2 linked regions of the Homo sapiens genome follow. The protein of the gene in region 1 interacts with the protein of each later gene in a pairwise test. Each region holds a gene or a part of one and is shown on either strand. Other genes may lie near its edges.

Region 1 (5,240 bases):
ATAGATTATAAATTGCTTAGAATTGAAAATGTTTTTATTAAAATTTTTATTACATGTTCTGCAAAATTACTTACTGTAAACAGTTGAGAAATGACTTAGAAACCAATATATAATACAGCATGTACTGTGTGCTGAGATTTATTTCTAGACATTGTACATAATTCATTTTCCTCTTTTTTTTTTTTTTTTTTTTACTAACTCAGAGATGCTTCTTTGTGAAAATGGAATTGTTAGTATAGAGTAACATCTGTCAGTTCTTTTAGATCTTATCATAGGGAATAATAGTTTGATTTTTCACAAAAAGGATCTGGAATAAAGGATTTGCAGGGTGTATGTTGAGAAGAGGCAGTTGATGTATGCACCAGCTAGAAATCTGAGACTTAACTATGTGGTCTTGAATCTTTTCCCATGCTATTCTTCCTGCTACAAGTGACTTTTTTCAAGTACAGTTGACCCTTCAATAGTGCAGCGGTTAGACTCACTGACCCCTGCACAGTCAGAAATTTTTGTATAATTTTTGACTTCCCAAAAACTTAACTAGTAACCCTTCTGTTGACTGGAAGCCTTACTGATAACACAGTCTGTTAACACACATTTTGTATATTATATGTATATTACATTGTATTCTTACAATAAACTACAGAAAAGAAAATTTTATTAGGAAAACCATAAGGGAGAGAAAATCCAGTACTGTATTGTACTTATTGATATTGTAAGTTTTTGTTTGCTTACCAGATGACTCCTCTTTCTGAAAAGGTGGGGGAATGGAGGGGCAGGGCTGGGAACTGCAGCTGCAGACCTCAATCTATGGTACATACCAAGCAATTCAACTTTATCTCTCATAATGTCATGACTTTTCTCTGTTTCTTGGGAGCATTTCTGGCATCTCTAGTGGCACGTTTTCATTCAAGGTTTATGGTATTGTACCAAACAGGATGAAAAATACAAGAGAACACCAAGAAATCATTTTTTACTGTGATACACAATTTACCGGAGAGATGAACTGCTCACGCAGAGATGATTAACATCACACAGTGGACTAAGCGGTTACTCACAACACTTGAGCTCGCTGCAATAACAACAGGAGGTGGCTATGAAATTATTACAGTAGTACAGTATGTACTACAGTTAATTGTATGCAGTTAGGACTTAATACTGCATCTTTACATTTGTTTACATTTCTCTTGACCGCGAATGATACTATGTATCGTGTGTGTGTAAGTTTTGATAAATTTTAATTTTTTCTAATAAATTTTATGGTTACTACCATAAAATGATAAAGTAGACTAGTATTTATATACATATTATGCATTCATGACATACCTAACTTTTTTCTTAATGTTTTTGTTATCCTGGCTACGTGGTTTGTCTGTGTTTTTATTGTATTTATTTATTTAAAAAAATTTTTTGAGACAGAGTCTCACTGTCACCCAGGCTGGAGTGCAGTGGCGCCATCTTGGGCCTACTGCAGCCTCAACCACCCAGGCCCAGGTGATCCTCCCCATTCAGCCTTCTGAATAGCTGGAACCATAGGCATGTATCACCAGGCCTGGCTAATTTATTTTTATTTTTATTTTTTGCAGAGACAGGATCTCTCTGTGTTGTCCAGGATGGTTTTGAACTCCCAGGCACAAGCAGTTCTTCCAAGTTGGCCTCCCAAAGTGCTGGTATTACAGGCATGAGCCACCACACCCAGCCCGAGTGTTTTTAAATTGTCACAAATCTCCAAAAATTTTTCCAAATATATTTATTGAAAAAAATCTGTGTATAAGTGGACCCATGTAGTTCAAACCTGGCTTTTCAAAAGTCAAATGTACCTCTCTTTTGGTATACATTTTGTGTTATTGATATTGTGATGTACTATAGTTTACATATTTGTCCTCTCCAAAACTCATGTTGAAATTTCATCCTCAATGTGAGAGTGTTGAGAGGTGAGGCCTTTAAGAAGTGATTGATCCATTCATGAATTAATGGATTAAGGGGTTATCATGGGAGTGGGACTGGTGGCTTTGTAAGAAAAGGAAGAGAGACTTGAGTGAGCACATGAGCACACTCAGCCCCCTTGCCCTGTGATGCTCTCTGTTGTCCTGGGATTCTTGGAGAGTCCCCACCAGCAAGGAGGCTCTTAGCAGATGTAGCCCCTCGACCATGGACTTCTTAACCTCCATAACTGTAAGACATAAATTCCTTTTCTTTAGAATTACCCATTTCAGGTATTCTGTTATAAGCAACAGAAAACAGAGTAGGACAGGATTAGAAATATTTATAATGTTGCACTAAAGTTAGAACCAGTAGTCTTCAAGAAGCAGGTGGAGCAGCTCACATAATAATAGTACCTTTTGTGTGGCAGGTGTTACATACATTATCTTCTTTCACTGTTACAAGAGCCCTTTAAGGCATGCTTCTTTATCTCAGAATTACAGATAAAGGAATAGGCCCAGAAAGAAAAAGTGACTTGTGTCACACATGGGGAGAAAGGGACCGAATTGGGATGAGAACCCTGACCTGACTCCAAAATCCATGCCCTTTCCACTTGGTTGTGCTGCCCTTATTAAAGAAAAAGGGCAAGGATGGCCAGAGTGTCCTTAATTACATTCTTTTATTTAATACTGTGCTATATACTTGCTCAAATTACTACTGTGCCAAACAAGAATAGCGAAAAAGTTTGTGTATTTAAGCTCCACAAAGATTCTTCTAGCTTTGTTTTCTGTTGACTCATCTGTATCCTACTGACCAGAGGTATGTGGTGATGGAACACGGTTGTTTTAAAGAATGAGGATCTTTTAAAAAGAAACATTTGTGGGGAATTAGACAAAATAAAGCAAATAATGGTAGCATTAGCTAGTTATTTCTTTCTTTCCCTCATTGTATTTAAAGCTTCTCAAGGGCAGGGAACTGAGTCAGTTAAGTTCCCTGATGTATTTAAGGCCAACATATGACCATATGTGTCAGCCATATGACACACTCACAAAAGGCTTGCTGAATGAAATTAGCACTTATTATCATATTTTTACATAAATACTTAAAAGGGCATGAGTTTTCCTCACATAGGAAGTTGAGCATTACTACATTTCATTTGTTTATTCATTCATCTTTTATCGAGTGTTTGTTGAGTATCTGTTCTGTGCCAGACACCAGGAATACAAAGATGAGTAAGACAGGATCTCTGCCTTTTGTTGTCAGAAGGCTCAGAGAATGGAGGCAGCCAGACACCCGTTTTAGTACAGTGTGGAGCTGAAGGAAGTATATATTAAAAAACAAACAAACAATGGACTTTGGAATCAGACCTTATCTGCCTTGGTTTTCTTATCAAAGAGGTGGAAATGTCAAGTAGGTACTATTATCCATGGAGGATGTTAAATGAAAAGTGTGTATGCCTGTGTGTGTGTGTGTGTGTGTGTGTGTGTGTGTGTGTGTGTGTGTGTGTTTATCCCAGCACATAGCAGAAAGGAGAGCCTCACTGTGGCCGAGGGAGTCAGAAAAGTCTTTACTGGGGAAGGTGATGTTTGAGTCTCATAGAATGAATTTTTGAGGCAAAGCGAGACGCTCATCTCTCTCCAGGTAGAAAGATGAGCATGTTTGACATGTGCGGAATAGGTTGGCATGATGGGAGTGGTGGGAAATTCTGCACATTCCCACATTCAGAGCTTACGGGAGTATTAGAAAGAACTGAATGAGCAGTTATTTTTCATTTTTGTAAGTAACAATACAATAGAGTATTCATTACATTGTAGCAGAAGAGAATAAAGATACCAAACCTGTTTAAGAATTGCATAAATCTTCTCTTCTAGTCACATGGCCTTCTAAATGTAGCTCTTTATGTAGCAAACAAATTCATGTGTTCTTTTTCAGTCCTGTGATACTCAAGTGATTATATGGAATTTAAGAAAGAGAACTTGCATGTTTTTGGGTGAAATTGGAGGTCCTGTTTCAAACCATTCTTACATTTAGTAGCATAGCAACAAAAGAATGTAATAATCTATGAAGCCAGATCTAGTCCTGTTTAAGCCTGTCTAAAATTCTAAGCCATAGTTTCTGAACAGAACCTGAAACATACTATTTAGGAATGTACTAAAAAATAACTTGTTAAATGAATTATGTGCTTGATAAGAGATCAGAGTTCTATAATTGAAAAATTGTGTTTTTAATATAAGGGGAGAAGAAAAAGAGAAAGAAAAAATAGTGAGAAAAAAGATTGATAGAAGGAAGAGAAGTTTGTACTTAAATGAGGGAGAAACATTTTTCAAGTCCCTTATTGAGGGCTGTTGAATTATCTTCTGTTAACACCATTAGAATATTACTAAGTTATTCCTTATTATAGAAATACATGTATATTATTGAGATATTTGTTGGTTTAATGCAACAATAGAATGTTTCCAGTATCTGAAGTGGAAAAACAAAGCTGCAAATAAAAATATGTGTAAAATCTGTCTCTTTTGAGAAGACATTGATTACAGTTTATCTAATTTTCTGCAATAATTTTGACATTTAAAGTTGATGGTAATTTTAGACCTGAATGTACAATAAGATGATTTTAAGTGCTCTTTTAGAATTTAAAGAAAGATATACTTTTGATGATAGAGATAGAAGATACTTTTAACTGCTTTGCTAGTGAAAAGTCTGTTACATTTTGCTGGGCAAGGTGGCTCACGCCTGTAATCCCAGCATTTTGGGAAGCCGAGGCAGGCGGATCACCTGAGTTTGGGAGTTCGAGACCAGCCTGACAAACATAGAGACGCCCTGTCTCTACTAAAAATACAAAATTAGCCGGGCTTGGAGGCACATACCTGTAATCCCAGCTACTCGGGAGGCTGAGGCAGGAGAATTGCTTGAACCCGGGAGGCAGGAGGTTGTGGTGAGCCAAGATGGCGCCATTGCACTCCAGCCTGGGCAACAAGAGTGAAACTCCATCTCAAAAAGAAAGAAAGAAAGAAAGAAAAAGTCTGTTACATTTTAAAATCTTGGTTTGCCTTCTTTTTTGGGGACTTGGATTTCTTGAAATTAATTTTGTGAGTAACTTGGTAAATTGATGACTTATTTTCTGCCTGGGCATGCAAACTCTGCATTTGATAGTTTCTTTCATATATGGAAGAAATGAAAACACTACCTTTAAGTAGATTTACTACCTTTATTCCCCCCATAAAGGCATGAACAGCTTGTTTATGTTTATATGCATGCGTACATAATCTCCAATTTCTCTTTGCAGTGTGTTTTCAAAACTTCAACTGTTTTATGACAAA
Region 2 (3,962 bases), on another chromosome or scaffold:
TAGGCCTCTTGGTCCAGCGGGACGTAGCGGCCCTTCTGGGCATCTAGATAGAACAGCGGGTCTTTCACAATAGCCGGGTCAAAGCCCTCCTTCCGTAGCTCTGTCTTCTGGAACTTGTAGGTTCCTGGGAGAGCAGGGAAGAAGACTCAGTGCAGGGCAGGGGCCCGAGCTCCCAGCTTCCCAACCACCAGTACTGAGGAAGGCAGGGAGCAGGGCTGGAGGACAAACAGGGGAGGGAAGTGGGGGAGGAGGCACAGCCCTTTACAGTTTGCAAAGAATGGTCATACAGCAGCTGTGGCAAAGTTGGGGCATGGGGACAGCTGCTAGTTACCCACCCACCCCTACTTTGCAGATGGGAAAACAGGCCTGGAGAAGGGAGGCTATTTGCCTAGTGTCACATGCTGAGTGACAGCAGAGTGGGGACCAGAACGGAGGTCTTCTGACTGTGATGTCTCCCTTTGAGTACCTACCAGGTAACAGTGTGAGCTTATTTCATCTGTACATCAGCCCCATAAGGCAGGTGCTCAACCGTATTCTCTGGATTCTAACACGGACGTGCTTGCAGATTTTAACATCTCTGAACTAGTATAATTAGCAGCACATATTTTCTTACTCGTACATAAAAAATTCATGGTATTTTTTTCTTTTTTATTGAGACAGGGTCTCACTCTATCACCCAGGCTGGAGTGAAGTGATGCCATCTCAACTCACTGCAACCTCCACCTGCCGACCTCAAGTGATCCTCCTACCTCAGCCTCCCAAGTAGCCAGGACTATAGGTGTGCACCACTGTGCCTGGCTAAGTTTTGTAATTCTTTCTTTCTTTCTTTATTGGAGACGGAGTCCTGCACTGTCACCGGGGCTGGAATGCAGTGGCACGATCTTGGCTCACTGCAACCTCGGCCTCCCGGGTTCAGGCGATTCTCCTGCCTCAGCCTCCCAAGTAGCTGGGATTACAGGCACCCACCACCACGCCCAGCTAATTTTTTGTATTTTTAGTAGAGACGGGGTTTCACCATGTTGGTCAGGCTGGTCTCGAACTCCTGATCTCAGATGATCCACCCTCCTCGACCTCCCAAAGTGCTGGGATTACAGGCGTGGGCCACTGCGCCTGGCCAAGTTTTGTATTTCTTGTAGAGATGGGGTTTCGCCATGTTGCCCACCCAGATCTTGAACTCCTGGGCTCAAGCGAGCTACCTGCCTCAGCCTCCCAAAGTGCTAGGATTACAAACATGAGCTGCCACGCCTGGCCGCATCTTTCAATCAATGGTATTAATCCTGTACAGATGAGAAGACTGATGCTCAGGGTGGTAGAACTGGGATTGGAACCTGGATGAGACAGACTACCAAAAATGGCTGCAGATTCCTCCCCTCCCTGTACACACACACCTCTGCTATGTGGCTTTGGCACTTCTCCTGGCAAGAGCTCGACTTTTTCAATCTCCATTGGCCTCAATCTGGACTGGCTTTACAACTTGCTTTAACCAACAGAAGGTGGCAAAAGCAATGTTGTAGGAGTTCTGGGTGAGTCTAGGCCTCGGGGGACCTTGCATCTTCCACCTCTACCTGCTTGGGGGTGCCCTGGGGCTAGTCTAGCCTTCCAAAGGGTGAGAGGCCACGTGGAGCAGAGATGAGCCATCCCAGGTGAGGGCCCAGACCGGCGCCGTCCAATATGACCTCATGTGGCTATTTACATTTAAATTATTAAACAAGGCCAGGCATGGTGGCTCACGCCTGTAATCCCGGCACTTTGGGAGGCCAGGGTGGGCGGATCACCTGAGGTCAGGAGTTCGAGACCAGCCTGGCCAACATGGCAAAACCCCATGTCTAATAAAAAAAATACAAAAATTAGCCAGGTGTGGTGGCACGTGCCTGTAATCCCAGCTACTGGGGACGCTGAGACAGGAGAATCACTTGAACCCAGGAGGCAAAGGTTGCAGTGAGCTGAGATTGCACCACTGCACTCCGGCCTGGGCGATAGAGCAAGACTCCATCTCAAATAAATAAATAAATTTAAGTTAATTAAACAAAATTTAATCCCAAAGTGTTGGGATTACAGGCGTGAGCCACGGCGTCCAGCCAGCAGCCACCTTTCAAGTGCTCAGTAGCTCTGCCAGGCTAGTGGCTACTGTGTTGGACAGCAGAAACCTAGAACATTTCCATCGCTGCAGAAAGTTCTGTTGGACAGTGCTGCAGAGGTAAGCAGCCGAGAGCCAGACACGTGGGTGAGGCCATCTAACTGCCTCTTGCCCCAGCTAAGTTACTAAGTGATGACCCCAAAGCAAGGTCAATAGAAGAACTGCTCAGCTGCACTTAACCCCTAAATTGCTTACCCACAGAATTATGCATCAATAAACTGGTTGTTTCGAGCCATTTTGGGGCAAGTAAGTTTGGGGGTGGTTTGTTCTGCAGCAAAGCCCATCTGAAATACAAGGTCTGAGAGCCTCCCTGCCTTTCCTGGACAGAAGTATGGTGCTGCTCAATCCTCCGGAAGCTCATGGTCTTGGCCATTAGCCTGGCCACAGTGTCTCCAACCTTCAGAACCACACTGAAGTCCTAAACCCTCCCCGATGCTTTAGGCACTCCAGGTACCCACTCTCTGGCAGAAGCCACATTGGCTAGGGAGTGCCCACCATCAAGGCAGGACTGATATGACGACAACGTGGGAGGTGGCCAGGGAAATGTGCTCCAAAGGGTGAGCAGCCAGGGAGGGCCCAGAAGAGGCACCAAGGGCTGAGGAAAGCAGGGGCAGGTATGGGCATGAGCCTCAGCATTTCCTGCCCACCAGGGAACTCTTGAGAGCCACCAATGGGCCAACAGATAGAAAGATGGTGCTGCCTTGTGGGCGACTGCGGGCCCGCTGCCCACCTCCCACCTGGACAACTGCAACAGCCCCTCCCTCGTCTCCCAGCTCCCTCAGGGCTGCCTGCAATCCTCTCCCACTCCGTACACAGCAGCCAGAGAGCTTTGTAGAGCATGAGTCTGACCAGGTTCCCACCTGCTAAGATGCTTTTTTTTTGAGACAGAGTCTCACTCTGTCGCCCAGGCTGGAGTGTAGTGGCATGATCTCAGCTCACTGCAACCTGTGGCTCCTGGGTCTCCTGGGTTCAAGCAATTCTCCTGTCTCAGCCTCCCGAGTCGCTGGATTACAGGTATGTACCACCACGCCCGGCTAATTTTTTTTTTTTTTTTTTTTTGAGACAGAGTCTCACTCTGTCTCCCAGGCTGGAGTGCAGTGGCACGGTCTCGGTTTACTGCAACCTCCACCTCCCAGGTTCAAGTGCTTCTCATGCCTCAGCCTCCCAAGTAGCTGGGATTACAGGCGCCCACCACCATGCCTGGCTAATTTTTTTTTTTTTTTTTTTGAGACGGAGTCTCACTCTGTAGCCCAAGCTGGAGTGCAGTGGCGTGATCTCAGCTTACTACAACCTCCACCTCCGGGGCTCAAGCGATCCTCCTGCTGCAGCCTCCCAAGTAGCTGGGACTACAGGCGCCCACCACCATACCTGGCTAATTTTTTTGTATTTTTGGTAGAGACGGGGTTTCATCATGTTGCCCTGGATGGTCTCAAACTCCTGAGCTCAGGCAATCCATCTGCCTTGGCCTCCCAAAGTGCTGAGATTACAGGTGTGAGCCACCATGCTCAGCCTAATTTTTTTATTTTTATGTTTGTATTTTTAGTGGAGATGGCATTTCACCATGTTGGCCAGGCTGGTCTCGAACTCCTGACCTCAAATGATCCGCCCACCTTGGCCTCCTAAGTGCTGGGATTACAGGCGTGAGCCACCACGCCCAGCCAGCTAATTTTTATATGTTTAGTGGAGACGGGGTTTTGCCATGTTGGGCAGGCTGGTCTCGAACTCCTGACCTCAAGTGATCTGCCCGCCTTGGCCTCCCACCCAAAGTGCCGGGATTACAGGCATGAGCCACTGCGCCCGGCCTTGCTGAGATGCTTCTGTGGCT

Evidence for each region. Proteins that work in one complex are often made in the same cells at the same time.
Region 2: the proteins of EPS8 (region 1) and SLC27A4 interact in a two-hybrid assay, tested with the Homo sapiens proteins (one large-scale study listed by BioGRID and IntAct).

Annotation. Positions count from the first base shown.
Region 1 is NC_000012.12:15,778,669-15,783,908, reverse strand, and holds part of EPS8 (epidermal growth factor receptor kinase substrate 8), read left to right. Parts: intron 1-5,240. UniProt on the Homo sapiens protein: Signaling adapter that controls various cellular protrusions by regulating actin cytoskeleton dynamics and architecture. Depending on its association with other signal transducers, can regulate different processes.
Region 2 is NC_000009.12:128,356,496-128,360,457, reverse strand, and holds part of SLC27A4 (long-chain fatty acid transport protein 4), read right to left. Parts: intron 125-3,962; coding exon 1-124. UniProt on the Homo sapiens protein: Mediates the levels of long-chain fatty acids (LCFA) in the cell by facilitating their transport across cell membranes. Appears to be the principal fatty acid transporter in small intestinal enterocytes.